Regions from separate parts of the Homo sapiens genome. Here region 2 is linked to region 1. The links come from fine-mapping of genetic effects on gene expression. A gene starts in region 1. The other region holds a variant in brackets. All regions are shown on one strand. Distances are from middle to middle.

Region 1 (16,620 bases):
CAGATCATAGTGAATTTGGCTGGAAGGTAGTTAAACGCCGAAGGAAAAGGTAGATTGGAACTGCTGTGAATGGTCTTGTATTCTAGGATGAAGTCTTATTAAATATGAGTAGGAGAGTCAATATTGAAGAAATGCCAATCCTCTCAAAATTCATCTATCTATATAAAATGTAATAACAATAAAAAAATCCCAAAAGGATTTTTGTAGAAAACTTAATAAAATGGTTCTGGAGTTTATTGCATGGACATGTGAGTCAGGCAAATTCTGAAAAACAAGATTAACATAGGGGCCTTATGTTATATTATACTGCATAGTAATAGAAAGCTACACTAATTAAAACAAATGTGTACATGTATAGAAATAAGCTGACAGATCAATGAAACAAGTCTAGAAATAAACTCAAGCATATGTGGGAAGTACATGAATTACCAACAGGACGATTCAAATCGATGTGTTAAAAATGGTATTCACGCGGGCCGGCCGCAGTGGCTCATGCCTGTAATCCCAGCACTTTGGGAGGCCAAGGCAGGCAGGCGGATCACCTGAGGTCAGGAGAGCACTCTGGCCAACATGGTAAAAACCCGTGTCTACTAAAAATACAAAAATCAGCCAGGTGTGGTGGCTACTCAGAGGACTGAGATAGGAGAATTGCTTGAACCCAGGAGGCGGAGGTTGCCGTGAGCTGAGATCATGCCACTGCTCTCCAGCCTGGGTGACAGAGTGAGACTCCATCTCAAAAAAAAAAAAAAGGTATTCATGCTGGGTGTGGTGGCTCACATCTGTAATCCCAGCATTTTGGGAGGCCCAGCTGGAAGGAAGGATCGCTCTAGGCCAAGAGTTCAAGACTAGCCTGGGCAACATAGCAAGACTCTGTCTCTAAAAAAAAAAAAAAAAAAAAAAATTTTTTTTTTTTAATTCGCTGGATGTGATGGTGTGCACCTGTAGTCGTAGCTACTTAAGAGGCTGACATGGAGGCCAGGTGCGGTGGCTCACGCCTGTAATCCCAGCACTTTGGGAGGCCCAGGCAGGCGGATCACAAGGTCAGGAGATCAAGACCATCCCAGCTAACACGGTGAAACCCCGTCTCTACTAAAAATACAAAAAATTAGGCAGGTGTGATGGTAGGCGAGATCCTGCCTTCAGTTTTGGGGGCTATATACCTAGAAGTGGAATTGCCAGATCACAGGGTAATCCTATTTTTAATTTTTTGAGGAATTGCTCATTTTAGAGTATAATCCCTATTCGTCTACATTTTGATTCTGTTTTGTCTGTCTGTGGTGCTTGTGGATGAGGTGTGTGTAGTGAACACCATCACTCTTCAGCAGTATTTTGAGCACATGGAGGGACTGCAGGCCTGCCCTCTTCCCCACCCCAAGTTAGGTGGGGACATCTGAGTTGATTTGGTTGTCAATGATGCGTCTCACTTCCGAGTGGAAGCTCTGAAAAGCCATCCTCTCTCTCTCCTTTTTGCAGGGGTCCTGGAAGCCCATGTTGACATGGTGGTGCCGCAGACTGTGGCTATGTGGATCATAGAATCGTCACATGGAGGATGGCTGTCCTGAGCAGCTGCTGAGGCCACAGGAGGCTTTGCTTCCCCTCCAAACTGTCTTTTCCTGCATAAGTGTCAGGCTGTGTGTGTGTGTGTGGTTTTTTTTTTTTTTTTTTGACAAATTTGATTTTCTCTTCTTTTTCTTATTTTAAATCATTTTTTTTTAAATCATACAAATGATGTATGAATCCATTATCATTGTAAGACATTCAAATGATATAGACAAAATTAAAGACTCTCATGTCCCACTTCTAACATTCCAACTCAGTTTTCCTGAGGTTTCCCTAAGGTAACGCTGTTCTCAGTCTGGGTTTTTCCTTTCAGATCTTTTTCTACGGCTACTTTTATGCTTTATATTTTCATATTGAAATGTGTTCTGGTTTTACTTTATATAAACAATATCAAACTGAACCTACTGTTTCACAATTTCCTTTTACCTTATTCCATATCTTGGAAATTTTCTGTGTCAGTAGATATAGATTTCCTTTTTTTTTTTTTTTTTTTGAGACAGGGTCCCGCTTTGTCACCCAGGTTGGAATGCAGTGGCATGAACATGGCTCACTGTGGCCTCGACCTCTTCGGCTCAAGCAATCCTCCTGCCTCAGCCCCTCAAGTAGCTGGGACTATAGGCACACACCACCACACCCGGCTAATTTTTGTATTTTTTGTAGAAATGGGGTTTTGTCATGTTGGCTTCCCACACCACCACACCCGGCTAATTTTTTTATTTTTTGTAGAAATGGGGTTTTGCCATGTTGGCTTCCCACACCACCACACCCGGCTAATTTTTGTATTTTTTGTAGAAATGGGGTTTTGCCATGTTGGCTTCCTAGGCAGGGCTCAAACTCCTGGGCTCAAGCGAACCTACCTGCCTCAGCCTTCCAAGGTGCTGGGATTATAGGAATGAGCTATCGTACCTGGTCAATTTTTTTTGGTTTTTATGATTATTTTGTTTCTTAATCCATATGGGATTATTTTATGTATGGTGTAATTTTAATTTTTTTCCAAGTGGAAAACATCATTATTGGCTATTCTTGCACATTTTGTTTTCCAGCTAAATGTTATAATCATCTTAAGCTTCCTATAAAACTTCTTGGCATTTTAGATGGTCTTCCTATTCACCCTGTATTTTTTCAGAGTATCCTCAAATTTTCTGGTGTGTCAATAACACTAATTCTGAATTTTCAGCTCGATTTGAAATTTACTGTTTAATTTTTAAAATGAGTATGTTCTGTTTTATGAGACTTGGAACAGGAAGCAGGGCAGTAGTAAGATGTACATTTATATCCAGTTCTTCCACCAGCTATCATTATTCATTTATTTATTTTATTTTTTGAGACGGAGTCTCCCTCTGTTGCCCAGGGGGGAGTGCAATGGCGTGATCTTGGCTAACTGCAACCTCTGCCTCCCGGATTCAAGAGCCCAGGTAGTCGAGTCTACAGTGAGCTGTGATCATGACGCTACACTCCAGCCTGGGTGACAGAATGAGATCCTGTCTCAAAAACCGTAAAGAAATGAAAAAGAAAATGTGGTATCCTTAGTGCAGAGGATCACTTCAGTGGCTCTCTCAGTTATGTAAATGTAAGCTGAGAAAAAATAATTGTTCTGTAACAGGATATCTTTTTTTTTTTTTTTTTTTTTTTGTCATGGACTCTTGCTGTTGCCCAGGCTGGAATGCAGTGGCGTGATCTCAGTTCACTGCAATCTCTGCCTCCTGGGTTCAAGTGATTCTCCTGCCTCAGCCTCCCAAGTAGCTGGGATTACAGCCATCTACCACCCCGCCTGACTAATTTTTTGTATTTTTAATAGAGACGGGGTTTCATCATGTTGGCCAGGCTAGTCTAGAACTCATGACCACAGGTGATCCACCCTCCTCAGCCTCCGAAAGTGCTGGGATTACAGGTGTAAGCCACTGCACCTGCCTGGATATAGCTTTTGTGACAACTATAATGGCTATTAGATCCCTGATATGTAAACTTGGTCCCTAAGAAGGAGGTGGATACATTTACATAAGGAAGCTAGAGTCTTCTAAGCTAGAAGAAATTGATACTCAATGATTACTTTCTGAAATACAAAGTTAGAGAGACCTGTGGCTGTTGACAGGCTGGCTGTGGCCAAAGGACAGTGACAGGGAAGGGCCACAAAGTCCTTGAAATAATTAATTTCAGTCAAGAGGGAGTCCAGTCTGATGCCCTCAAGGATTGATTCCAGTCCAGTAGGCAGCTGATGCTGAAAGCAGCTCTGATAACTTGCTAGGCAACATTTCATAATTAGCAGCATTATTCACTGGATGTGCAGAATCAGTTTCCTGCTACAAAGAGGTAGCAAAGGATGTAACTGGCTAATTGGACATCTGCACTGTCCTTGCTGTGGTATGGAAGTTTGAGAGACTTCTCTGACCAATTACATCCTTGGACATTTCAGGGTAAATTTGGAAAAAGGCAGATGTTGTTAATCTATTCTGTGGAGTCTCCAGATAATTTTCATTTTATATAAAAAAGTTTTCAAGGATATGTATTTATCATTGTACCACAATATTTGGGAATAGGTCATACCAGATACATTGGAAAGAACCTATGTCCATCCACAGGGGAATTAGTTTTTTTTTTGTTGTTGTTTGTTTGTTTGTTTGTTTGTTTGTTTTTGAGATGGAGTCTTACTCTGTTGCCCAGGCTGGAGTGCAATGGCGCGATCTCGGCTCACTGCAACCTCTGCCTCCCGGGTTTAAGCGATTTTCCTGCCTCAGCCTCCCGAGTAGCTGGGATTGCAGGTGCCCGCCACCACGCCCAGCTAATTTTTGTATTTTTAATGGAGACGGGGTTTGACTATGTTGGCCAGGCTGGTCTCAAACTCCTGACCTCAAGTGACCCACCTGCCTTCGCCTCTCAGAGTGCTGGGATTATAGGTCTGGCCAACCCAACCTGGGCACGAATTAGTTTTTTAAAAAGTGGTATATCCAGCTGGGTGCGGTGGCCCAGGCCTATAATCCCAGCCCTCTGGGAGGCCGAGGCGAGTGGATCACGAAGTCAGGAGTTCGAGACCAACCTGGCCAACATGGTGAAACCCTGTCTCTACTAAAAATACAAAAAAATTAGCCAGGCGTGGTGGTGGGCACCTGTAATCCCAGCTACTCGGGAGGCTGAGGCAGAAGAATCGCTTGAACCTAGGAGGTGGAGGTTGCAGTGAGCCGAGATCACGCCACTGCACTCCAGCCTGGGCGACAGAGAGACTCTGTCTCAAAAAAAAAAAAAAAAGTGTTATATGCATTCAATGGAATACTGTGCACCTATCACAAAGAACAATAAAGAGCTATATTGTTGGAAGTGGAAGAATCTCCAAGAGTTATATTTGAGTATATGTGCATGTGTGTGTGTGTATATATATGTAATTACATATATATACAAATATATATTATTATTTGTATAAAAATTATTTGGTTATATATCCTTATGAGATATAGAGGTTTAGTAGTAAGGTTACCCAAATTTGATGGTGCTTGGCTGTGAGTGGTGAGATTTTAGATAATTTTTGTCTTTCTGATATCTTTATGTATTATTTAAATTATTTAAAAATTTTCAGTTATTAAAATGTTTTATCTTTATGGAATACTTAAAAAAAACTGACCAGAGAAGTTATAAGGAACAATATTATTATTATTAGGAACTCACTATATACTAGACATTCTGCTGTTTTATATGCATTATCTGATTTAATTCTCACAACCCCATGAGATTATTATCCTATTTTGTAATATTGAGCAAACTAAGCCTTCAAGTGTTTAAGCAAATTGCCCATACTCACAGGGTTAGTAAATGGTGGGGGCAGGATTAAAGGCCAGGTTTCCCAGCTGCAGTGCTACTAGGGTCTCTCTGGCCCGACCTACAGGTAAACTGGGTTGCTCTTTGGAGCTAACAGAAAGTTACCAATATCTTAAATACAATCACTTCAACCCCACCAGTCCTATCTCCGAGGCCATCTTTTCTTTTACCTTTCCAGCAGCATGCACTAAATAAAATGCCATAACTAGTATCAAAGCCACTACCAACCAAAGATGGAAAACTTTCTGTGGTAATATGTTACATTGGTTGCTGAAATGAACCATGCCTTCCAGTATTGGAAGGGACCCTGGCATAGTCCCCTCCCCTTGAATTGGGGCTAGCCCTTCTACTTGCTTTAACCAAGAATATAGCCAAGGTGCTAGTTCTGCACCTACGCTTTAAGAAGGCCTGGCAGCTTCCACTTTTGCCCTTTTGGGAGCCCCGAGCCAACATGTAAGAAGTATTCTGGCGGGGCACGATGGCTCATGCCTGTAATCTCAGTACTTTGGGAGGCCGAGGCGGGTGGATCATCTGAGGTCAGGAGTTTGAGACCAGCCTGGCCAACAGGATGAAACCCCGTCTCTACTAAAAATACAAAAAATTAGCTGGGCATGGTGGCGGGCGCCTGTAATCTCAGCTACTCAGCTACTTGGGAGGCTGAGGCAAGAAAATCGCTTGAACCCAGGAGGCAGAGGTTGCATGCAGTGAGCCGAGATGGCGCCATTGCACTCCAGCCTGGGCAATAAGAAACTCCATCTCGGGGGAAAAAAAAAATGTCATCCTACTCTGCTAGACAAATTACATGGAAAGGCCACGTGGACAGGGAGAGAACTTGGACTACAGGGAGAGAGACCCAGTTCTTTCAGCGGAACCAGCCCCCACTTGTTGCTATGACCACTGGCAAGACCAGCAGAACGGGTGGGCTAATCCCAGCCCAGATTGCAGAACTGTGAGCAAGTAAAATGGTGGTTGTTTTAAGTCTTACGTTTTGGGGCGGTTTGTTACACAACAGATTATGAAAACACCTCCTCAGCTTTCCTTGGGTGACTACTGGTACTCACTTGTGTATAAGTCTCCATTCCTTAATCCTTACTATCTCCCAATTTTATGGTAATAGTTTGCCAGAAGCGTTCACATTAACGACGAGGACGTAGGCAGGCCCCCCCTTTTTTTTTTTTTTTTGAGACAGAGTCTTGCTCTTTCGCTCAGGCTGGAGTGCAGTGGTGCGATCTTGGCTCACTGCAACCTCCGCTTCCCGGATTCAAGCGATTCTCCTGCCTCAGCCTCCCGAGTAGCTGGGATTACAGGCGCCCGCCACCACGCCCGGCTAATTTTTGTATTTTTAGTAGAGACGGGGTTTCACCATGTTGTCCAGGCTGGTCTTGAACTCCTGACCTCAGGTGATCTGCCCGCCTCAGCCTCCCAAAGTGCTGGGATTACAAGCGTGAGCCGCCGCGTCCGGCCGGATCCTCAGTTCTTTCGCTGTAAACGAGAGTACTCTTCCCCAACCCACAGGCTTATATCTCTTACAATTCAGTGAGTGAGACATCGGCTGAGGACACACCTGTTGCACAAAAAGGGCTCACTGCACGCCATCACACCCAAGTCTCGTACCCTCATCTTCATAACCTGCCCAATCCCAGTGAGTGTGAGAGGTAAGTCTGCAGCAGGGCCCGGAAAACTTGTTTCTTTTTCTTTTAAATAAGTTTTCTCGCGAATTCGAACGCATGTCCTCCTCCTGCCATACCTCAAAGGACTCCGCTCGTCACCACGCCCCCGCGCCTTCTGTTAGGAGCAGCAAACCCCAGGTGTCGCGAGGGTTTCTTCTTTCTTCAAGATCAGCCACAGGTCGCGCGAGAGGGATGTGTCCAATCACGAGGCTAGATGGCTTCACAAGATGGCGGCGCGCTGGGAGCGTATCATCTGCGTTTCTAGGAGCTTCGCTATGCGGCTGCTTTAAGATTCTAGGGTTGTACAGGCCCACGCCAGACACGACGTCTGGCAGGAACCTCGGCCTCAGAGGTGGGTCACTTATATCTCTCACGCAGATTTACTATCATGGGTCACTTAACCCGTGGATCACACGGGTTCCTCATTCTTGAGTTTTGGGCTAGTGAGGTGCCGACTTCGGGGTCTAGGAGGGGAGACCTGATGTGGCTGTGTGTGCGCACGCGGGGGTGTTGAGAGTGGATGAGTGGGAGGAGTTGGCGAATAGAATAGAGACTAGGACTGAAGTAGGAAAGACTCCCCGGTGTTTAGGAGGTTTAGAGAGATCCAAAACTGAGGCGGGAAGACAAACTGAGCTGATAAAATGAGGGCATGGAAAGAACGGCAGTGGCAGGACTAGTGGGAAACGTCGGATTTATGAGAGAAGGCGAAGAGAGAAGATGTAGATTGGTGTGGAAGTGGGAGGGATCTGTGCAGAAAGAATTTGAAGTTCTGAAATTGGAATTTAGACTGTTTTACAGGCTGTGTATCAAGAGAGTGGTAGTTGAAGAGGGTTAATGGTCAAGAGGAACCAAGGAAACAGAAGCATGGAGATGAGAAAGAAAAAAAAAAAAAGGGAAAGCCTCATTCTCAGGGTTCTACTATTAACTGTGGCTTTCTGGACTGACTCAAGTAACCGGGAAGAAAAGTTCCAGTCCATGGGCTGAGCTTTTTTTGAAACTCAGTGAGGGTGCTTTGTGTCGGTGGTCCAGACAGGGAAGAGTTCTATCGTGGTTTCAATCAACAAATACTTGAGTGCCTACTCTCTTAGGCCCTATTTTAGGCGTTGGGATATGCGGTGAACAAGACAGACAAAATATTTACCCTCTTGAAACTTACTGACGGGAGATTTTTTAAAGTAAGTAAAATATATGGAATGCCAGATGGGTAAATTCTGTGTAGAAAATTGAAGCTAGAGCCTGGGTAGCAAAGCCAGACTCCCTTTCTACAAAAAATGAAGTAAATTAACCAGGTGCAGTGCTCTGTACCTGTAGTCCCAGCTGCTTGGGAGGCTCAGGCGGGAGGATTGCTTGATCTCAGGAGTTGGAGGCTGCAGGGAGCTATGATTCCATCATTGCACTCTGGGCAACAGAATGGAAGACCTTGTCTCAACAAGAAGAAAAAAAAAAGAATTGATGCCCAGTTAAACTCTGAAGAATAGGTTATATTTAGCTAAGAACTCATTGCCTATATTGGGAGGTTAGTTAGAAAAGAAGTGGTTGTATTTACTCATTCTGTATCTGTTCTGACCAGAAAAGTTGAATAATGTAGGAAATGAATCGAATCTGCCATGTCTGTAATTTAATTTGTTTCACATATATTCAGAGTATTATGTTGTGTGTGCACTGATGTCAGCTATGTAGTCTGTAGAATTTTCCTTAATGTGTGGCAGAGCCCTAACATGCCACTGTCTCTTGAAGTCACTGTTAGGATATGGTGACTAAAGTCAGCAACAATGTATATTTCAAAATAGCTAGGAGAGGGCTTGAAATGTTACCAATACATAGATATAAAAAATACTCAAAGTGGTGAATACCCCATATACTCTGACTTGATCAGCACACATTCTATGCGTGGAACAAATACCGCATAAATGTCACATGTCCCCCATAAATTGGGAAAATATTTTCCATCAGTTTAAAGAAATTACTCTTAGTTTACTTTTTTTTGTTGCTTGCCAGAATCACAAGAAAGAACATTTTCTTTTTCTTTTTTTTTTTTGAGACAGTTTCACTGTCACCAAGGCTGGAGTGCAGTAGCACGATCTTGGCTCACTGCAACCTCCACCTCCTGGGTTCAAGTGATTCTCCTGCCTCAGCCTCCCGAGTAGCTGGGATTACAGGCACCCACCACCACGCCCAGCTAATTTTTTTTTTTTTTTTGAGACGGAGTGTTGCTCTGTCACCAGGCTGGAGTGCAGTGGCGTGATCTTGGCTCACTGCAACTTCGGCCTCCTGAATTCAAGTGATTCTCCTGCCTCAGCCTCCCAAGTAGCTGGGACTTCAGGCACATGCCACCACACCCAGCTAATTTTTGTATTTTTAGTAGAGATAGGGTTTCACTATGTTGGCCAGGATGGTCTCCATGTTGGCCAGGCTGGTCTCACAAACTCCTGACCTCAGGTGATCCTCCAGTCTTGGCCTCCGAAAGTGTTGGGATTATAGTCGTGAGCGACTGTGCCCGGCCAACACTTTAATTTTGGATATTTTCTTTTTAATAAAGTCTATTATTTGTATTTGTTTATTTTGAGACAGGGTCTCACTGTGTGGCCCAGGCTGGACTGGAACTCCTGGGCTCAAGCTATCCTTGGCATCCCTAGTAGCTAGGAACACAGGCATGCACCACCTTGCCCAGTTGATGTTTTCTTGAGAACTGGGGGCCATCCTAGTTTTATGCTCCCCTCTTTCCTGATGGTCAGTAAAGGGTATGTCAATGCTAGGAAATTAAGACAGGTATATAGTCATTTTTAGTCATAGTGTGAGGGGCAAAATGTAGTAACAGTATGCTGAAAAACTTTCAGGTGACTACTAATCCCCTCAAATTCTGAATTGTTTACTCAAAAAATATTTATTGTATACAGGTTGCTGGGGGTATAGTAAAGACTAGGATGGATATGGTTGCAGGTCTATGTGTGACATATGCAAATTAATTACACACCCAGTAGTAAACTGAAGATCTCTGAGGGAGAAGCAGCACAGGGTGCTTTGAAAGCGTGTAGATGGGCATCTGATTGGATTGTGGGGTCAGAGAAAGGCTGCCTGAGTAAATGATGCCTAGGGTGTGATTTGAGTAGCTAGTGGACCTTCAGAGGTGAAAGGCGATGGTGGGAGGTTGAGGAGAGTCTTACAGGCAGTAAGAATAGGAGATGGTGAGACAGACTACCATGCAGCAGAGAAAATGGAAGAAGACCAGTATGTCTGGAAGGGGAAAGTGGCAACAAATGAAGTTGGAGGGACAGATAAGGCCTGGATTATGCCTGCCTTTTTAATGATTTTAGACTTTTTTAGCTTAATAGCTTTGGGATGCCACTGAAGGGATTTAATAAGGAAATGTTCACATTTGCATGGGGGGAGTGGCTTGTCTGCTGAGTGAAAAGTGGCTGGTAGAGGGCAAGAGTGTTTATGAAGAGATCAGTTTGAGACTCTTAGAGCAACCCAAGAAAGACATGATAATGACCTGGGCCAGAGAGGTGGTGTTGTGAAGGGTGAAAAGTGGGATAAGGTCAAGAAATAATTGGGAGATGGAGTATTCAGGACCTGGTGTGTTGTGAATGGGGGAGGCAGCATGGAGAAGGTGTTGAAGATTTTTGATGTGTTTATCACAAGAAAGATAGCAGTGCATTTGGTGAGATAGGGAAGATGAGAAGGACCAGTTTGGGGTGGGTAGAAGTGATTTAATTTTGCACATATTGTACATGTATTTTTGAGCCCTTCAAGTGAGAAATATGGTAGGCAGTTGGATATGTGATTTGGAAAAGTCTGGAATGAAGACAACAGTTCTTTTCTGAAATTGGTTTAATTTCCAGTGTAGGAAGCTGTCAAAAAACCATCTGAAATAGCATTGACAGATTTATGACTATGTAAAATTATGTCTCTAACAAAGATTGCAAAAGAAAAATATTTATTGCTAGGAGATGTTATAATAGAGGATTTGTCTTTTTTTTTTTTTTTATTGATCATTCTTGGGTGTTTCTCGCAGAGGGGGATTTGGCAGGGTCACAGGACAATAGTGGAGGGAAGGTCAGCAGATAAACAAGTGAACAAAGGTCTCTGGTTTTCCTAGGCAGAGAACCCTGCGGCCTTCCGCAGTGTTTGTGTCCCTGGGTACTTGAGATTAGGGAGTGGTGATGACTCTTAAGGAGCATGCTGCCTTCAAGCATCTGTTTAACAAAGCATATCTTGCACCACCCTTCATCCATTCAACCCTGAGTGGACACAGCACATATTTCAGAGAGCACAGGGTTGGGGGTAAGGTCACAGATCAACAGGATCCCAAGGCAGAAGAATTTTTCTTAGTACAGAACAAAATGAAAAGTCTCCCATGTCTACCTCTTTCTACACAGCCACGGCAACCATCCGATTTCTCAATCTTTTCCCCACCTTTCCCCCTTTTCTATTCCACAAAACCGCCATTGTCATCATGGCCCATTCTCAATGAGCTGTTGGGTACACCACCCAGACGGGGTGGTGGCCGGGCAGAGGGGCTCCTCACTTCCCAGTAGGGGCGGCCGGGCAGAGGCGCCCCTCACCTCCCGGATGGGGCGGCTGGCCGGGCGGGGGGCTGACCCCCCCACCTCCCTCCCGGACAGGGCGGCTGTCCGGGCAGAGGGGCTCCTCACTTCCCAGTAGGGGCGGCCGGGCAGAGGCACCCCTCACCTCCCGGATGGGGCGGCTGGCCGGGCTGGGGGCTGACCCCCCCACCTCCCTCCCGGACGGGGTGGCTGGCTGGGTGGGGGGCTGACCCCCCCACCTCCCTCCTGGATGGGGTGGCTGGCCGGGCAGAGGGGCTCCTCTCTTCCCAGTAGAGGCGGCCGGGCAGAGGCGCCCCTCACCTCCCGGTCGGGGCGGCTGGCCGGGCGGGGGGCTGACCCCCTCACCTCCTTCCCGGACGGGGCGGCTGGCCGGGCAGAGGGGCTCCTCACTTCGCAGTAGGGGCGGCCGGGCAGAGGTGCCCCTCACCTCCTGGACGGGGCGGCTGGCCAGGCGGGGGGCTGACCCCCACCTCCCTCCCGGACGGGGTGGCTGCCGGGTGGAGACGATCCTCACTTCCCAGACGGGGTGGCTGCCGGGCGGAGGGGCTCCTCACTTCTCCGACGGGGCGGTTGCCAGGCAGAGGGTCTCCTCACTTCTCAGACGGGGCGGCCGGGCAGAGATGCTCCTCACATCCCAGACGGGGCGGCAGGGCAGAGGCGCTCCCCACATCTCAGATGATGGGCGGCCGGGCAGAGACGCTCCTCACTTCCTAGATGGGATGGCGGCCGGGCAGAGACGCTCCTCACTTTCCAGACTGGGCAGCCAGGCAGAGAGGCTCCTCACATCCCAGATGATGGGCGGCCAGGCAGAGACGCTCCTCACTTCCCAGACGGGGTGGCGGCTGGGCAGAGGCTGCAATCTCGGCACTTTGCGGGGCCAAGGCAGGCAGCTGGGAGGTGGAGGTTGTAGCGAGCCGCGATTACGCCACTGCACTCCAGCCTGGGCACCATTGAGCACTGAGTGAACGCAACTCCGTCTGCCATCCCGGCACCTTGGGAGGCCGAGGCTGGCGGATCACTCGCGGTTAGGAGCTGGAGACCAGCCCGGCCAACACAGCGAAACCCCGTCTCCACCAAAAAAATACGAAAACCAGTCAGGCGTGGCGGCGTGCGCCTGCAATCGCAGGCACTCGGCAGGCTGAGGCAGGAGAATCAGGCAGGGAGGTTGCAGTGAGCCGAGATGGCAGCAGCACAGTTCAGCTTCGGCTCGGCATCAGAGGGAGACCGTGGCAAGAGGGGGAGAGGGAGAGGGAGAGGGAGACCGTGGGGAGAGGGAGAGGGAGGGGGAGGGGGAGGGAGAGGGAGAGGATTTGTCTTAACTGGGGAGATTAGGGAAGGAAAGATCTTCCTGAAGAAGAGGTGCTTGAACTGTGAGCCCAAGAATGACTAAGAATTTGCCGACTGAAGAGAGGGAGGAAAAAACGTTACAGATAAAAAGAATAACCTGCATAGGAGGCTGAGGCAGGAGAATCGCTTGAACCCGGGAGGCAGACGTTGCAGTGAGCCAAGATTGCGCCACTGCACTCCAGCCTGGTGACAGAGGGAGACTCTGTCTCAAAAAAAAAAGAATAGCCTGCATAAAGGTCCTGTGGTCAGGGTAGAAGGACACAAAGAGCAAGGGCATGTGACTTAAACTGATGGTGAAAAGATAGGCAAGGCCAGGTCATGTAGTGCCTTGCATGTAGGCTGAAGTGATGTTTTTTTATTTTATCCTAAGAGTAAGGTTTTGAGCAGGTGGACATAGGAGAAGGACATACTGAGATTTGTGTTTGGAAATGATCACTACGAGGTGGAAGGAGGGATGGTGAGAACAAGAGTGGATGCAGGGAGACCAATTAAGAGGCTACTGTAAACCAGGTGCGGTGGTGCACACCTGTAGTCTCAGCCATTTGGGAGCCCGAGGTGGGAGGATTGCTTAAGCTCAGGAGTTCAAGTCTGGCCTGGGCAATGTAGTCTCTAAGGAAATAAAAGTAAGTAAATAAAAAGGCTGTTCTGGCCGGGCGTGGTGGCTTACAACTATAATCCTAGCACTTTGGGAGGCTGAGGTGGCAGGATTGCTTGAGGCCAGGAGTTCAATACCAACCTGGCCAACATAACGAAACCATGTATCTAAAAAAAAAAAAAAAAAAAAAAAAAAAAAAAAAAAATGCCTCTGGGCTTGACATTGTTGGGGACAGGGAAAAAGAGTGGATTTAAGAGGTATTTAGCAGGTAAAACCTACAGAAGTGGTGATTTCTTGGATATGAGAAACTATCAACTGACTCCTAGATTTTTGGCTAACATAATATTGTTTAGAAGAATAATCATTATTTAAAAGGTAAAAAATAAAGATATTAAGAAAATAAAAGTCACTTGCCACCCAGAGAGAGATATATATATATATAATAGTAAAATATTTTTTAAATTACCAACTACCTGGAGATTTACTAAACCATTATAATAGTTTCTCTTTCAGTGTTTATGTCTTGATATAAGTACATTTGCTTTTATTTCTTGTTGTAATCTGGAAGAAGACAAAATTATGTTCGTTTTCATTTGGTTTTAGCTACCTAGGAATGACAAGATTGAAACTTTAAGTTGGAATCAAAGATATTTTTTCAAAGTTTGGTGATGTTATGGTACACTACCAAATATTCAGTCCTTGTAAGGATACTGTAAAAACTAACCCCCAAGCTGGGTGTGATGGTTCATGTCTGTAGTCGTAGCACTTTGGGAGGCTGAGGCAGGAGGATCACTTGAGCTCAGGAGTCGGAAACCAATCTGGGCAACAAAGGGAGACCCTGTCTCTACAAAAAATAAAATTAAAAATAAATTAGCCAGGCGTGGTGGCATGGTGGCACATACCTATAGTCCCAGCTACTCGGGAGGCTGAGGTGGAAGGACTGTTTGAGCATGGGAGATTGAGGCTGCAGTGAGGTATGATTGTGCTACTGCACTCCATCCTGGATGACAGAGTGAGACACTGTCTCAGAACAAACAAAACAAGACAAAACAAAACACAACTAACCTCTAACTAATATCCTTGGTTATAGATCATATATACAGACTGTGTTCTGTCACTTTGATGCTCTTAAAGGAATACTTTTCAGCTTTCTTCCCTTGATTTAAAAAAAAAGACTCACTCTTACGTTGTCTGCATTTTTAAAATCATGGAAAAATATACATAACATAAAATTTACCATTTTAGCCATTTTTAAGTGTACCATTCAGTGACATTAAATGTGTTCATTCTCTTGTGCAACCATCACCTCTATCTCCAGAACTTTGTCATCATTCCAAAGTGAAACTCTGTACCTATTAAACAGTAACTCCTCATTCTTCCCTCCCCAGCTCCTCATCACCTCTATTCCACTCTCCATCTGTGTAATAAATTTACCTCTACTGGGTGCCTCATATAAGTGAAAGCATACAATATTTGTCCTTTTGTGTGTGGTTTATTTCCCTTAGCATGGTGTTTTCAGGGTTCTTCCATGTTGTAGCATGTATCAGAATTTCATTTCTTCTTAGGGCTGCATAATATTTATTGTATGTATATACCGTATTTTCTTGATCCATATTTATTGTATGGATATACCATATTTTGTTGATCATATGTATTGTATGGGTATATCGTATTTTGTTGATCCATATTTATTGTATGGATATACCGTATTTTGTTGATCCATATTTAGTGTGTGGATATACCGTATTTTGTTGATCCATATTTAGTGTGTGGATATACCGTATTTTGTTGATCCATATTTACTGTATGGATATACCATGTTTTGTTTATCCATATTTATTGTATGGATATACTGTATTTTGTTTATCCATATTTATTGTATGGATATACCATATTTTGTTGATCCATATTTATTGTATGGATATACCATCTTTTGTTGATCCATATTTATTGTATGGATATACCATGTTTTGTTAATCTATATTTATTGTATGGATTACTGTATTTTGTTGATCCATATTTAGTGTATGGATATACTGTATTTCATTGACCCATATTTATTTTATGGATATACTGTATTTTGTTGACCCATATTTAGTGTATGGATATACCGTATTTTGTTGACCCATATTTATTGTATGGATATACTGTATTTTGTTGACCCATATTTAGTGTATGGATATACCGTATTTTGTTGATCCATATTTAGGGTATGGATATACCGTATTTTGTTGACCCATATTTATTATATGGATATACCGTATTTTCATATTTAGTGTATGGATATACTGTATTTTGTTGATCCATATTTAGGGTATGGATATACTGTATTTTGTTGATCCATATTTAGTGTATGGATATACTGTATTTTGTTGGTCCACATTCATCTGCTGATGGACACTCAGATTGTTTCCCACCTTTTCACTCTTGGGAATGATACTACTATGAACACTGCTGTACAAATATCTGTTTCAGTTCCTCCTTTCAGTTCTTTTGGGAATATACCTAGGAGTGGAATTGCTGAATCAGATAGTAATTCTATGTTTAGCTTTTTAAAGAACCGCCAAGCGTTTTTCGACAGCAGCTGTGCCATTTCACATTCCCAACAGCAATGCATGAGAACTCCAATTTCTTCACATCCTTGCAGAACACTCGTTGTTTCTGTTTTTTTAATTTTTTATTTTTGTTTTTTTGTTGACAGCAGCCATCCTAGTGGGTATGAAGTGGTGTCTCACGTGGTTTTGATTTGTATTTCCCTGATGACTAATGATGTTCACCATCTCTTCATGTGCTTATTTGTTGTATGCATTTTAAAAATGTGATTTCTACTTTCTCACTTGATCGGCAAAGACATGTTGGCTGTAACTATTAACTTGGCATCCACAGCTTTCCCCACTGATTTTTTTTTTTTTGAGACGGAGTTTCGCTCTTGTTGCCCAGGCTGGAGTGCAATGGCGTGATCTCGGCTCACTGCACCCTCCACCTCCTGGGTTCAAGCAATTCTCCTGCCTCAGCCTCCCAAGTAGCTGGGATTACAGGCTCCCGCCACCATGCTCGGCTACTTGGCTACTTT
Region 2 (11,750 bases), 89 kb after region 1:
TGCCACCACATCCAGCTAATTTTTTTTTTTTTTTGGGTAAAGATGGAGTTTTGCCATGTTGCCCAAGCTGGTCTCAAACTCTTGGGCTCAAGTGATCCTCCTGCCTCGACCTCCCCAAGTGCTGGGATTGCAGGTGTGAGCCACTGTACCCAGCATATACTTGCTGATACTTTATTCAGCTTCACATCTGTGGGTTTTTACTTAATTTCATCAGTTGTCCATCTGTATCTCCCATTCAAAAATCCTGTGACTGCGGTGGTGCACGCCTGTAATCCTAGCTACTCAGGAGGCTGAGGCGGGGGGATCACTTGAGCTCAGGTGTTTGAGGCCAGCCTGGGCAACACAGAAGACCCTATCTCTTAAAAAAATAAAAGAATCCCATGCCAAAAACTCCAGTCCTCAGCCAACATATTACTCATTAACTTTATCTCACAATATGCCCCAGGAGTCTCAAAAGTAACATTACCATCAACAAAGTGATTTCTGAAAATAGCTACTTTTTTACTTTTACAATTCTTTTTTGTCCTTGGAGACTCTCATGATGGATTTCAAAGTCATTTGGAACGTTTCCACTCTGAATTTTCTGCATGGAGTCAGGACAGAGGTTCGTTTGTTTCATCATCTTCAGATTTTTAGGGAGTGCCTTTTTTGTTGTTAGTTTTGTTTTGTAATAAAATATATTTCTTATTTCTCTACCTGTGAAATGAAAAAAATCTCAAAAGAATGGTCAGAAGTCTGACTTCTTTCTTCTATCTCATTCACCCTAATCCTTTACTTCTTCATGGGTTACTATTTAAACAGTTTTATAATTTATCATTCCTTTATTTGTATTTATATTTTTGAGCCAGGGTCTTGCTCCGTTGCCCAGGCTGGAGTGCTGTGGCACGATGTCGGCTCACTGCAGGCCCTGCCTCCTGGGTTCAAGCTATTATTCTCCTGCCTCAGTCTTCCGAGCAGCTGGGATTACAGGTGTATGCCTCCATGCCCGGCTCTTTTTTTTTTTTTCGTATTTTTAGTAGAGATGGGGTTTCACCATGTTGGCCAGGCTGGTCTGGAACTACTGACCTCAAGTGATCTGCCTGCCTTGGCCTCCAAAAGTGCTGGGATTGCAGGCATGAGCCACCGTGCCTGACCCATTTTTTCAAATTCAAAGAAATACACGTATGTATTTATAATCATTCCTTCTTAAATAGGTAGCATTCTGCAATAGTTTTCTTCCCCTTGCTATTTTTACTTTTTTTTTTTTTTTTTTTTTTTTGAGACGGAGTCTTGCTCTGTCACCCAGGTTGGAGTCCAGTGGCGTGATCTCGGCTCACTGCAACCTCCGACTCCCTGGTTCGAGCAATTCTCCTGCCTCAGCCTGCCGAGTAGCTGGGATTATAGACACGTGCCACCATGCCCAACTAATTTTTATATTTTTAGTAGAGATGGGGTTTCACCATGTTGGCCAGGCTAGTCTTGATCTCCTGACCTTGTGATCTACCTGCCTCAGCCTCCCAAAGTGCTGGGATTACAGGCGTGAGCCATGGCACCCGGCTGCTATTTTTACTTTTTACTGTTTTTACGTACTCCTGGGGGTGATTTCAGGACATTTTAAACAACGACCTGTCAGATTAAGATGAAAGAAATGGGCTGGGTGTGGTGATGTGCACCTGTAGTTGCAGCTACTTGGGAGGCTGAAGTGAGAGAATCACCTGCGCACAGGAGTTCAAGGCCAGCCTGGGCAACATTGTAACTCCCTATCTCTTTTAAAAAACAGACGGCCACTGCACTGGGGTCTCCTCTCTGCCCTGTCCCCTTTCCACTTGAGGTTTTTCTAGAAGCTGCTTTGCCAAAACAAAGAGGTTGTGGCTTCGTGCGCACCAGATTTCTCTGTAGAATGGCTCTTCTCTTCCTGCAAATACTAGAGAGAATTTAATGATTTCATTCAGCCTGTGGCTTTTTTTTTTTTTTTTTGCCTTAGCCATAATTAACGGAGACATAACATGCTACACTGATCTGTGTCAAGCTACACCACATGTGAAAGTTTCTTGGCTGATGGCATCATTGAGATTTAGAAATTAAAGTGAAGATTCAAATTTGTACCAGTCTGGGCGACATGGCAGAACCCCATCTCTACAAAAAATACAAAAATTAGCTAGGCATGGTGGCACACACCTATAGTCCCTGCTACTCAGAAGACTGAGGTGGGAGGATCACTTGAGCCTAGGAGGTGGAGGCTGCACTGAGCCGTAATTGCGCCACTGCACTCCAGCCTGGGTGCCAGAGCATGACCCTGTCTCAAAAAAAAAAAGACAAGAAAAGAAATTTGTAGACCACCCTGCTACGTAGCATATTTTAAAATTTAAGAACTGGTTTTTTGTTTGTTTGTTTGTTTGTGCCTGATTGATGGCTTCTGTGATCTAATGTGTTTTTAACGCTTGCAGTTCCTCTCTTATTGATGATCATTCCTTGACTACTTGGAATTCAAAAGATATAAAACCTGTGGTCTCTGCAGACCTACGACTGCTCACCAGGCTTCTCTCACATTGTAATTCCAGCAGTGCATCTTCAAATCCAAAATCAGCTGTAAATTCACCTAGTTCTTTGCATTAAACTGGATTAATCATTGTAAATGATTGGTTTTGGGGTAGACTTTAAAATGTTGAATTATTTATGTACGCCTTGCCTGCTAAACTAGATTATGACAGTTTGAGTGTAGCACTCTTCATTTAAAATATTTGTGTTTTGCAATTATAAGGATATTAGCAAAATAAGATCATTTCAATTGGGGAAAAACTGACAGCTTCTATGTACTAGTGTTTGCAGCAAAATGTAAAAATTGCCTACGACCAGAGAGCTGTGGTGTTGAATTTAACTATTAATTTCTTAGAACTTGATCCTATATTTTACTGTGACCCTGCCCACGAGGACTTTTCATGATAAATAAGAGGGGACTGAACAACTGCTGTGAGCCATACTTCAGTTAATCTTTCATCATTTAAAAGCCTTGCCTGAGAACTCCTGGAGTATGAATTATCTGTCTTTTTTTTTTTTTTTGAGACGGAGTCTCGCTCTGTCACCGAGGCTGGAGTGCAGTGGCGCGATCTCTGCTCGCTGCAAGGTCCGCCTCCCGGGTTCACGCCATTCTCCCACCTCAGCCTCCCAAGTAGCTGGGACTACAGGCGTGTGCCGCCACGCCTGGCTAATTTTTTGTATTTTTAGTAGAGATGGGATTTCACCATATTGTCCAGGATGGTCTCAATCTCCCGACCTTGTGATCCACCCACCTCAGCCTCCCAAAATGCTGGGATTACAGGCGTGAGCCACTGCGCCTGGCCTGTCTGTCTCTTAATGTCTAGTTTCTATAGTAGAGCAAAGCCAAATTGAAGACCGTCCTGAGATGATGTGTGTGCATGTGTGTGCTAGAGCAGTTCATTAGAAATCTTCCGAATGCAGCTGGCGCAGTGGCTCAGGCCTGGAGTCCGAACACTTTGGGAGGCTGAGGCAGATGGAGAGCTTCAGCCTATGAGTTCCAGACCAGCCTGGGCAATCAATATAGCAAGACCCTTCTCTATTTAAAAAATAAAAATAAGGCCGGGCGCGGTGGCTCACGCCTGTAATCCCAGCACTTTGGGAGGCCGAGGCGGGCGGATCACGAGGTCAGGAGATCGAGACCATCCCGGCTAAAACGGTGAAACCCCGTCTCTACTAAAAATACAAAAAATTAGCCGGGCGTAGTGGCGGGCGCCTGTAGTCCCAGCTACTTGGGAGGCTGAGGCAGGAGAATGGCGTGAACCCGGGAGGCGGAGCTTGCAGTGAGCCGAGATCCCGCCACTGCACTCCAGCCTGGGCGACAGAGCGAGACTCCGTCTCAAAAAAAAAAATAAAATAATAAAATAAAATAAAATAAAATAAAAGGAAAATTTTTTAAAAAATCTTCAGGAATATCAAGTTTGTTGACTGACCATTGTATATGGGAAAGTTGGGTCAGGATGCAGGTGAAGGAGCCATATTTGAGAGAGGGAAGTTTTCATTTTAGTCCTGAGATAACTGGGTAATAAGTTGTCGATTTTGTGATTTCTGACTTCCTCAGAACTCTGAAAGTATCCCTGATAGAGTTCTTGTCAGGTTGGTAAAGATGTATTTTCTTATTTTAATCTCTAGAAATGATGAAGCCCGTCCTTACTTTTGGAGAAAGAGTGTCGCAGGTCAGCTTTAGCATAATGAGAAACAGCAATATCCTGACTTTACTGGTCAGAATTTGTGAGCAAAATGATCACTCCTTCTGTGAGAAGAGATGGGAAGTGCTGCCCTTTTAGCCATGCTTGTAGGTGACCTTTGCTGTACAGGGCGGGCTGGCAGGGAGGGCCAGGTTGCAGTGAGCTCTCCATGGTCATGGCCTTTGATGTTGGGACGGGGAATGGGGAGTCTGATTCTCCACCCCCATCATCCTCCCACACACCGGCTTAATACGCTTCTTCCCCAGCTTAATACGCTTATTGTAAGCTCCTTACTGCAAAGCGTTAGGCTCTCAGTAGACTAGAAATTATGTTTCTCATGCAGGATGATTGAGTAATAACAATATGACTGTCTTAATGTCAATATGAATTTGTCTCATCTTGTCTGAAACATAATTGAACAAGTTCAGGTTCAGACAGGTCTTAGAGTCCACTATTCATTTCTCAAGAGCAGGTTCTTCAAACACACACACACACACACACACACACACACACACACACACACCCTTTGTTTTTTATCCTTCCCTAACAGTTTCCTAGTATAGAATAAACTGGTTAGGTTGTTGTGTATGTATGCAGTGTGAGGCCGCTGGTTAGTTCTTATTAGAAGACGTCCCCCAGTAATCAGAACCTGTGGTGTCTGCATGTGTGCGTGTGCGCTGTCAGTGTGGCCAGGTACGACTGGAATGATCAGTAGCAGTCGTCAGATTCCTTTTAGCAGAAAAAGATCTTCAAACCTGACTTGGTGTTTTTTCTTTTTTATCCTTTTTGTTGTTGTTGTTTTTGAGACACAGTCTCCTTCTGTCTCCAGGCTGGAGTGCAGTGGCGCAATCTCATCTCACTGCAACCTGCACCTCCTGGGTTCAAGTGATTCTCCTGCCTCAGCCTCCCGAGTAGCTGGAATTACAGGCGCGGCCACCACACCCGGCTAATTTTTGTATTTTTACTAGAGATGGGGTTTCACCATGTTGGCCAGGCTGGTCTCAAACTCCTGAGCTCAATCCATCCGGCCGCCTCGGCCTCCGAAAGTGCTGGGATTACAGGCATAAGCCACCACACCCAGCCTAAAGTTTCTACTTTAAAGAAAGAAATTCTCAGGCTGGACACGGTGGCTCACACTTGTAATCCCAGCACTTTGAGAGGCCGAGGTGGGTGGATCACGAGGTCAAGAGATCGAGACCATCCTGGCCAACATGGTGAAACCCCGTCTCTACTAAAAATACAAAAATTGGCTGGGCTTGGTGACGTAGTCCCAGGTACTTGGGAGGCTGAGGCAGGAGAATCGCTTGAAACCGGAGGTGGAGGTTGCAGTGAGCCGAGATGGCGCCATTGCACTCCAGTGACAGAGTGAGATTCCATCTCAAAAATAAATAAATGAATAAATAAATTTTCAATACAGTGGTGGCATTGGTTTTGTTTTTTTTTTTTTCTAAAACGGAGTTTCACTCTTGTTGCCCAGGCCCAGACTGGAGTGCAGTGGCACAATCTCGGCTCACTGCAACCTTTGGCTCACTGCAACCTTTGGCTCCTGGGTTCAAGCAATTCTTCTGCCTCAGCCTCCCGAGTAGCTGGGATTATAGGTGCGTGCCCCCATGCCCAGCTAATTTTTGTATTTTTGGTAGAGACGGGGTTTCACCATGTGGGCCAGGATGGTCTTGAACTCCTGACCTCAAGTGATCTGCCTGCTTCGGCCTCCCAGAGTGCTAGGATTACAAGCATGAGCCACCGCGCCCGGCAGGTGCCATTGGTTTTTAAAGTGGAACTTGAGTCCCTCTAGTGGGTAGGGTATAATTCACCTTCCCAGCTTGAGATAGAATGGAAGATGCCAGTCGTGATTTTCTTGGAACCAGCTTTGAAATCCAGTCTTCTCATCAGCGCCGGTGTCACCCTCCCCAGCTAAAAGGCAGTGCTTAGCTCGCCGCCGGCTTGGTCCCGACATCAGCCACGATTCAGGAGTCCTCCTCCTCTGCCCACGTGATCTTAGTGGCCCTGATCCTTCCTCGCATGTCATCTCA[T/C]GGCTGTGGTTCACCGGCTGCTTTATCTCAAGCCTCAGCCAATATAAACTCAAACTACAAGTTGATGATGTTTCTGCCCTGCAGTTCTTTCCAGCCAAGAACACAGTGCCCCCAGGGTCCTCGAGTTGTCATGAAATAAATAATTGTGCAGGTCTGCTTTGGGTACCACAGGTACACGAAGGACGTTTAGCAGTTGGAGGAGTTACATCTGATAGCCAGAACAAAGGCAGTGCGGTGCGGCTGGAAAGAACGTGGGTTCGGCGTTCAGTCCTAACTGCAGTTACTGTGTGACCTTGAGCTGTGTGACATAGCCTTTCTGTATCTTCGTTTTCCTGGAGATGCCTAAACTATCTTGTGGGGTTCTTATTTTTTTAATTAAAAATTTTTTTTTTCTTAAGAGACAGGGTCTCACCCCGTTTCCTGGGCTAGATTGCGGTGGCGCAATCAGAGCTCCCTGCAGCCTGGAAGTCTTGGGCTCAAATGATCCTCCCTCCTCTGCTTTCAGAGTAGCCGGGACCACAGGCATACACCATTGTGGCTGACTAGTTTTAAACGTTTTTTTAGAGATGGAGGTCTTACTATGTTGCTGGGGCTGATCTCAAACTCCTGGGCTCAAGTGATGCTCCTGCCATGGCCCCCCAAAGTGCTGGGATTATAGGCGTGAATGACTGCACCTTGCAGGGTTGTTTTAAGTGCTGGACATAACACACACAAAACCCTTTGTGTTTTCAGTGCTCTATGATTGGTAGCAGAAGTTGTGGAAATTTTCTCTGAGTTCATTACAATGCATGAGGTTTAATTATTCGGATAACTTTCTTCTCTTTTCTATGCTTCCTTTTTCTTGCAGTCACCACCAAGTAAGCGAAGAAAATTAGAGAAACCGAGAAAACCCATAACATTCGTGGTGCTGGCGTCCGTGATGAAGGAATTATCCCTCAAAGCATCACCTCTGCGCTCGGAGACGGCGGAAGGCATAGTCGTTGTCACGACATGGATTGAAAAAATTCTCACTGATTTGAAGGTACCTGCTTAACCATATTGACGAAGTACTCATAATGATCCTTCTCTTTTTTCTTTTTTCTTTTTTTTTTTATTGAGAGTTTGGAGAGAGGGGAAACGTGATTTCCCACAAAATTCTGTTTTTCCTCCAAACAGGTCCAGCATAAACGAGTTCCCTGTGGAAAAGAGGAAGTCAGCCTTTTCCTAACGGCCATAGAAAACTCCTGGATTCATTTAAGGAGAAAGAAAAGAGAGCGTGTGAGACAGCTGAGAGAAGTTCCCCGAGCTCCTGAGGACGTCATTCAGGCCTTGGAAGAGAAAAAGCCCACCCCCAAAGAGTCTGGCAATAGCCAAGAACTGGCCAGGGGCCCCCAGGAGAGGACCCCCTGTGGGCCTGCTCTGCGGGAAGGCGAGGCTGCCGCTGTGGAGGGCCCGTGCCCGAGCCAGGAGTCCCTGTCCCAGGAGGAAAACCCGGAACCCACGGAGGATGAAAGGAGTGAGGAAAAGGGAGGGGTGGAGGTTTTGGAAAGTTGTCAAGGCTCTAGCAACGGAGCCCAGGACCAAGAGGCTTCTGAGCAGTTCGGCAGCCCAGTGGCTGAAAGGGGGAAACGTCTCCCAGGAGTGGCCGGACAGTACCTGTTTAAGTGTTTGATAAACGTTAAGAAGGAGGTGGACGATGCCTTAGTGGAGATGCACTGGGTTGAGGGCCAGAACAGGGATCTGATGAACCAGCTTTGCACCTACATACGTAACCAAATTTTCAGGCTTGTTGCAGTTAACTAGAAACCTCCTGCACAGTTGGAAACGTGTTGATAGTAACTTGCTTTGGAGTGGCCTGTGGGGTGGCAAGAGGAATCCTACCAGCGGCCCATTAGTAGCACGATGTGGAATTATCTTCGAAAACAAAAACCTATGAATCTGTCCCCCACCTCCCCCCGCCTCCTTCCCGCTTTTTGAGTTACAGGGAGTCGTAGTGTGGTCATTTACAAGGAGGAATTGTGGTCATCAGTAACAACAGAAAGCCCTCAGTAAACTCCCGAGGGATTGCAAGCTGGCTCAAGCTGGCCCCTCAGCTCTGGACTGCCTCTGCAAGGTCAGAAGGGTTGTTTGTGGAGTCTGGGCTGGGCAGCACTGCCTAGAATATCATGCTGTCTCTGTCACCCAAGGGTGTTTCTTGAGGAGGGGTGGCTCTCTCTGCCTCCAGCTGGAGGCCCTGGTACCCTGTTCTAGGTCACTCTTCAAGATGGGGCCTACCTTGCATCAATCCCACAAAGGGAGCTGTATGGTGGGTGGTGGGGAATCTGGGAGAGAAACCTTAGTAATGCTGGGAAGGAGCAGCAGAGTCTGGGGACCACCCGGTAAATGGCACATTCCTGACACCTGGCTGTTTTGATGTTGCTTATTTCAGAAGCAGAATTAGGTAAGCAAAACTCCCCGGTGTGACTGAGGCACACAGAAGGCACCCATACCCCCACCTCCAGCCTGTTGACAGTACCATTTTGTAGCAGTTTTACTACTGTGTGATTTTTGTTTGGACATCTGAAGTAGAGCTTGTTTTGTTTTTAAATAAGAATATTCACAAATTAAAAACCAGCGGTCCTATTTGAATCCTGGGGTTAGCTGAGTGAGCGGCTGATGATAGAAATGAGAAATAGAACAAAATAGTATGTGCCGTAGGTAGCTTAAGAAAGTCTCAGATATTTTGTTGCTGATCAAATACTGTTTTTTTGTGGCTTCACTTGTAATCCCCCCTGTACTTACCTACTCACATTGGAGAGTTCTGAGGCCGGAGTAACTGTGTCCTTGAAACACGTTTCTAATTGGAATGCCAGGGTTCAGTAGCCGTCCCCCCGGAAAGGGGTGACCTTTTGCTGTGCTTGATGTTGCATCAGCAGCCTAGGGTTCTGTTTAGACTAAAATCTTGGCCAGAGCTCCTTGCCATCTGCTAAGAAGACTGGGGCTGAGTAGTTAAGCCAGCCTTCTGAGAGGTGGCTGTTGGTCAGGACGGGAAGCTGGTGACCTTGGCATGTCTTGGCAGCAGCTAGATCAGGCCCTCGGCAGAGACACAGGAAGCGGAACTGCTGTGCCTTAACTTGGCTGTGGAGCTGGAGCTGGAGAAGGCAGCATACTGACCAGTGGCTTTTTGATTGATTGTTTGTTATGAGGTGGAGTTTTACTCTTGTTGTCTAGGCTGGAGTGCCGTGGTGCGATCTTAGCTCACTGCAACCCCCGCCTCCCGGGTTCAAGCGATTCTCCTGCCTCAGCCTCCCAAGTAGCTGGGATTACAGGCACGCGCCACCACGCCTGGCTAATTTTGTGTTTTTGGTAGAGATGGGATTTCACCATGTTGGCCAGGCTAATCTCGAACTCATGATCTCGGGTGATCCGCCCACCTTGGCCTCCCAAAGTGCTGGGATTACAGCCGTGAGCCACTACTCCCAGCCTCTGACCAGTGTTCTTAACCTGGTCCGTGGACCTCCAGAGAGTCCATGTACCTCCTAGAGTTACTTCTAAAAGCTCTGTGAGCATGTGTGTGTGTGTGTGTGTGTGTGTGTATTTTTTTTCCTGGAGAGAGGGTTCCCAGAACCCTCAGACACAGACAAAGGGGTCAATAACCCACTAAGGATTAAGAATCATTATTCTAGTCCAAGCATTCATGTGTCAGGCTGCAAAAAACAATACCCAGGGTCACACAGAGCCAAGACTCAATTCAGGACCGTGGATTCCCCTGGTCTAGAAATTTTCTGCTGTGCCAGCCCACACCACCCCACTGTCCTTACCTCGAGTGAATATTACATTTGAGTCATTTGCTGGGCCCAAACCTAGTTTCCTTGGTATAATTTTAGGATAATTGTTTAAGTGGCAACTATTCATTCAGTAAGTAGTAAGTACTTATTGTTTGCTTGTTTCATTATGAAAGAGTGGCACATGCTCATTAAAGATTTGGAAAAATGAAAGTCAAAACAACAAAATCACCCCGAGTCCCAACCTTCTGTAACATAACCACTCTTGGCATTGGCGTGTTCCTTTCTAGTCTCTCTGTAGACGGGGTGTGTGAGTGTGTGGGTTTAACTTTGGTTGTCCTCATGCTGCGTATTCAGTTTTGTATTCTGGTCCTTTGTTCATTTAACATCTTACAAGTATTTGTCCATGTTGTAACAGTAGTGTATTAGCTTACACTCCTTGCCTGTTCAAAATGTCTTTCAGGCACAGCACTGGCCTTTAAGCCTGTGTCGTAGGGATTTCCAGAGAATGCTCTGTGTATTGAAGCACAGAAGGTGTTTCTGTGTCTCAGTGTGTTTCTGTCCCTAGGTTTAAGGCTTCATGTCATGGAGGAGATTTTATAGATGTCAAGCTAATGACCTTAGAGTTTTAAAAAATCCGTGACCGTGGCCAGGCGCAGTGGCTCACGCCTGTAATCCCAGCACTGTGAGGCTGAGATGGGCGCATCGCATGAGGTCGGGAGTTTGAGACCAGCCTGGCCAACATGGCGAAACCCCGTCTCTACTCAAAATACAAAAATTAGCCGGGCATGATAGCACGTGCCTGTAATCCCAGCTACTCGGGAGGCTGAGGCAGGAGACTCGCTTGAACCTGGGAGGTGGAGGTTGCAGTGAGCCGAGAATGCCACTGCACTACAGCCTGGGCGACAAAGTGGGACTGTCTCAAAAAAAAAAAAAAAAAAAAAAAAAAAGGAACCCATGAGCAGGCCAGCTTTCAGTCTGGAGCCGAGTGCCTTCTGTGCATTTGGATGTTTCCATTTCCTTCCCTGAGAAGATTTTCTTAGGCTACCTAGTGAGAGAACATTGAAAATATTTTTAAAGGACATCTAAGCATTGTTTTGGTCATGCATATGCTTTATAATTGTGTGTTGTTTCATAGCATATACCTCTGGTACAGGTGGGCAAGTTTTTCTTTGAAGAAATGGGTTATTGACTCATATGTCATAACCTTGAGTGTTACTCTCCCGGTGTCCAGAGGTCACATTCATGTTGCGGGGTTGGTATGAAATTAAATCTTGGTGATGTGACCCTACATTCTCTTCTGGTCCCTAGAATCGGCTTCTGGTCTCCTGATAACTGAAGTGGAGACAGAAGTTGAGCCTGTTGCCCAGGCAAACTAAAGCTGCTTTTGTTCTTCGGAATCTGCTTTGCCTCCGTCAGCCTGCTTCCTTCCCCACACATGCTGGCCGCACTGTCCCCACTCCAGACCTCTGCTGTGTGTCCTGGGCAGGGCCGCGTTTTGGCAGTACCCTTTCAACTCATCCTAAGCTTCGTGTAGATTACTTTAGTATATATTTTTTATAAAACATAAAGCCTTTCCTCTCGATGGAAATCAAAGCTTACCATGTGAGCACTCGAACTTCTAAGTTGTGACAGGAATAACAAAACTGCAAGGAGTGGAAAAGATGGAAAAGCCTGTGGGAAATCCGAGGCCTTTTGAAAGAAGGGAGCTGATGACTTCACGACCAGCTCCTGGAGCCCCTCCTTTCTGCTGAAGCCGCGGCATTTCCCTC

Evidence for each region. PIP is the estimated chance that this variant, and not a neighbour inherited with it, causes the effect.
Region 2: its variant is fine-mapped to the expression of METTL16 in whole blood (INTERVAL, PIP 0.99).

Annotation. Positions count from the first base shown.
Region 1 is chr17:2,502,528-2,519,147 of GRCh38, reverse strand. METTL16 (methyltransferase 16, RNA N6-adenosine) reads left to right here and starts at 7,260. Exons shown (of 10, transcript NM_024086.4): 1 at 7,260-7,389. RefSeq lists enhancers at 7,060-7,109, 7,180-7,389, 11,382-12,292, 12,293-13,204.
Region 2 is chr17:2,416,237-2,427,986 of GRCh38, reverse strand. METTL16 (methyltransferase 16, RNA N6-adenosine) reads left to right here. Exons shown (of 10, transcript NM_024086.4): 9 at 7,083-7,256; 10 at 7,391-11,750. The coding sequence ends at 8,017. Among named protein-coding and RNA genes, the nearest start is that of MNT, 21 kb to the right of the region's middle. The variant T/C (reference allele first, on the strand shown) is at 6,236.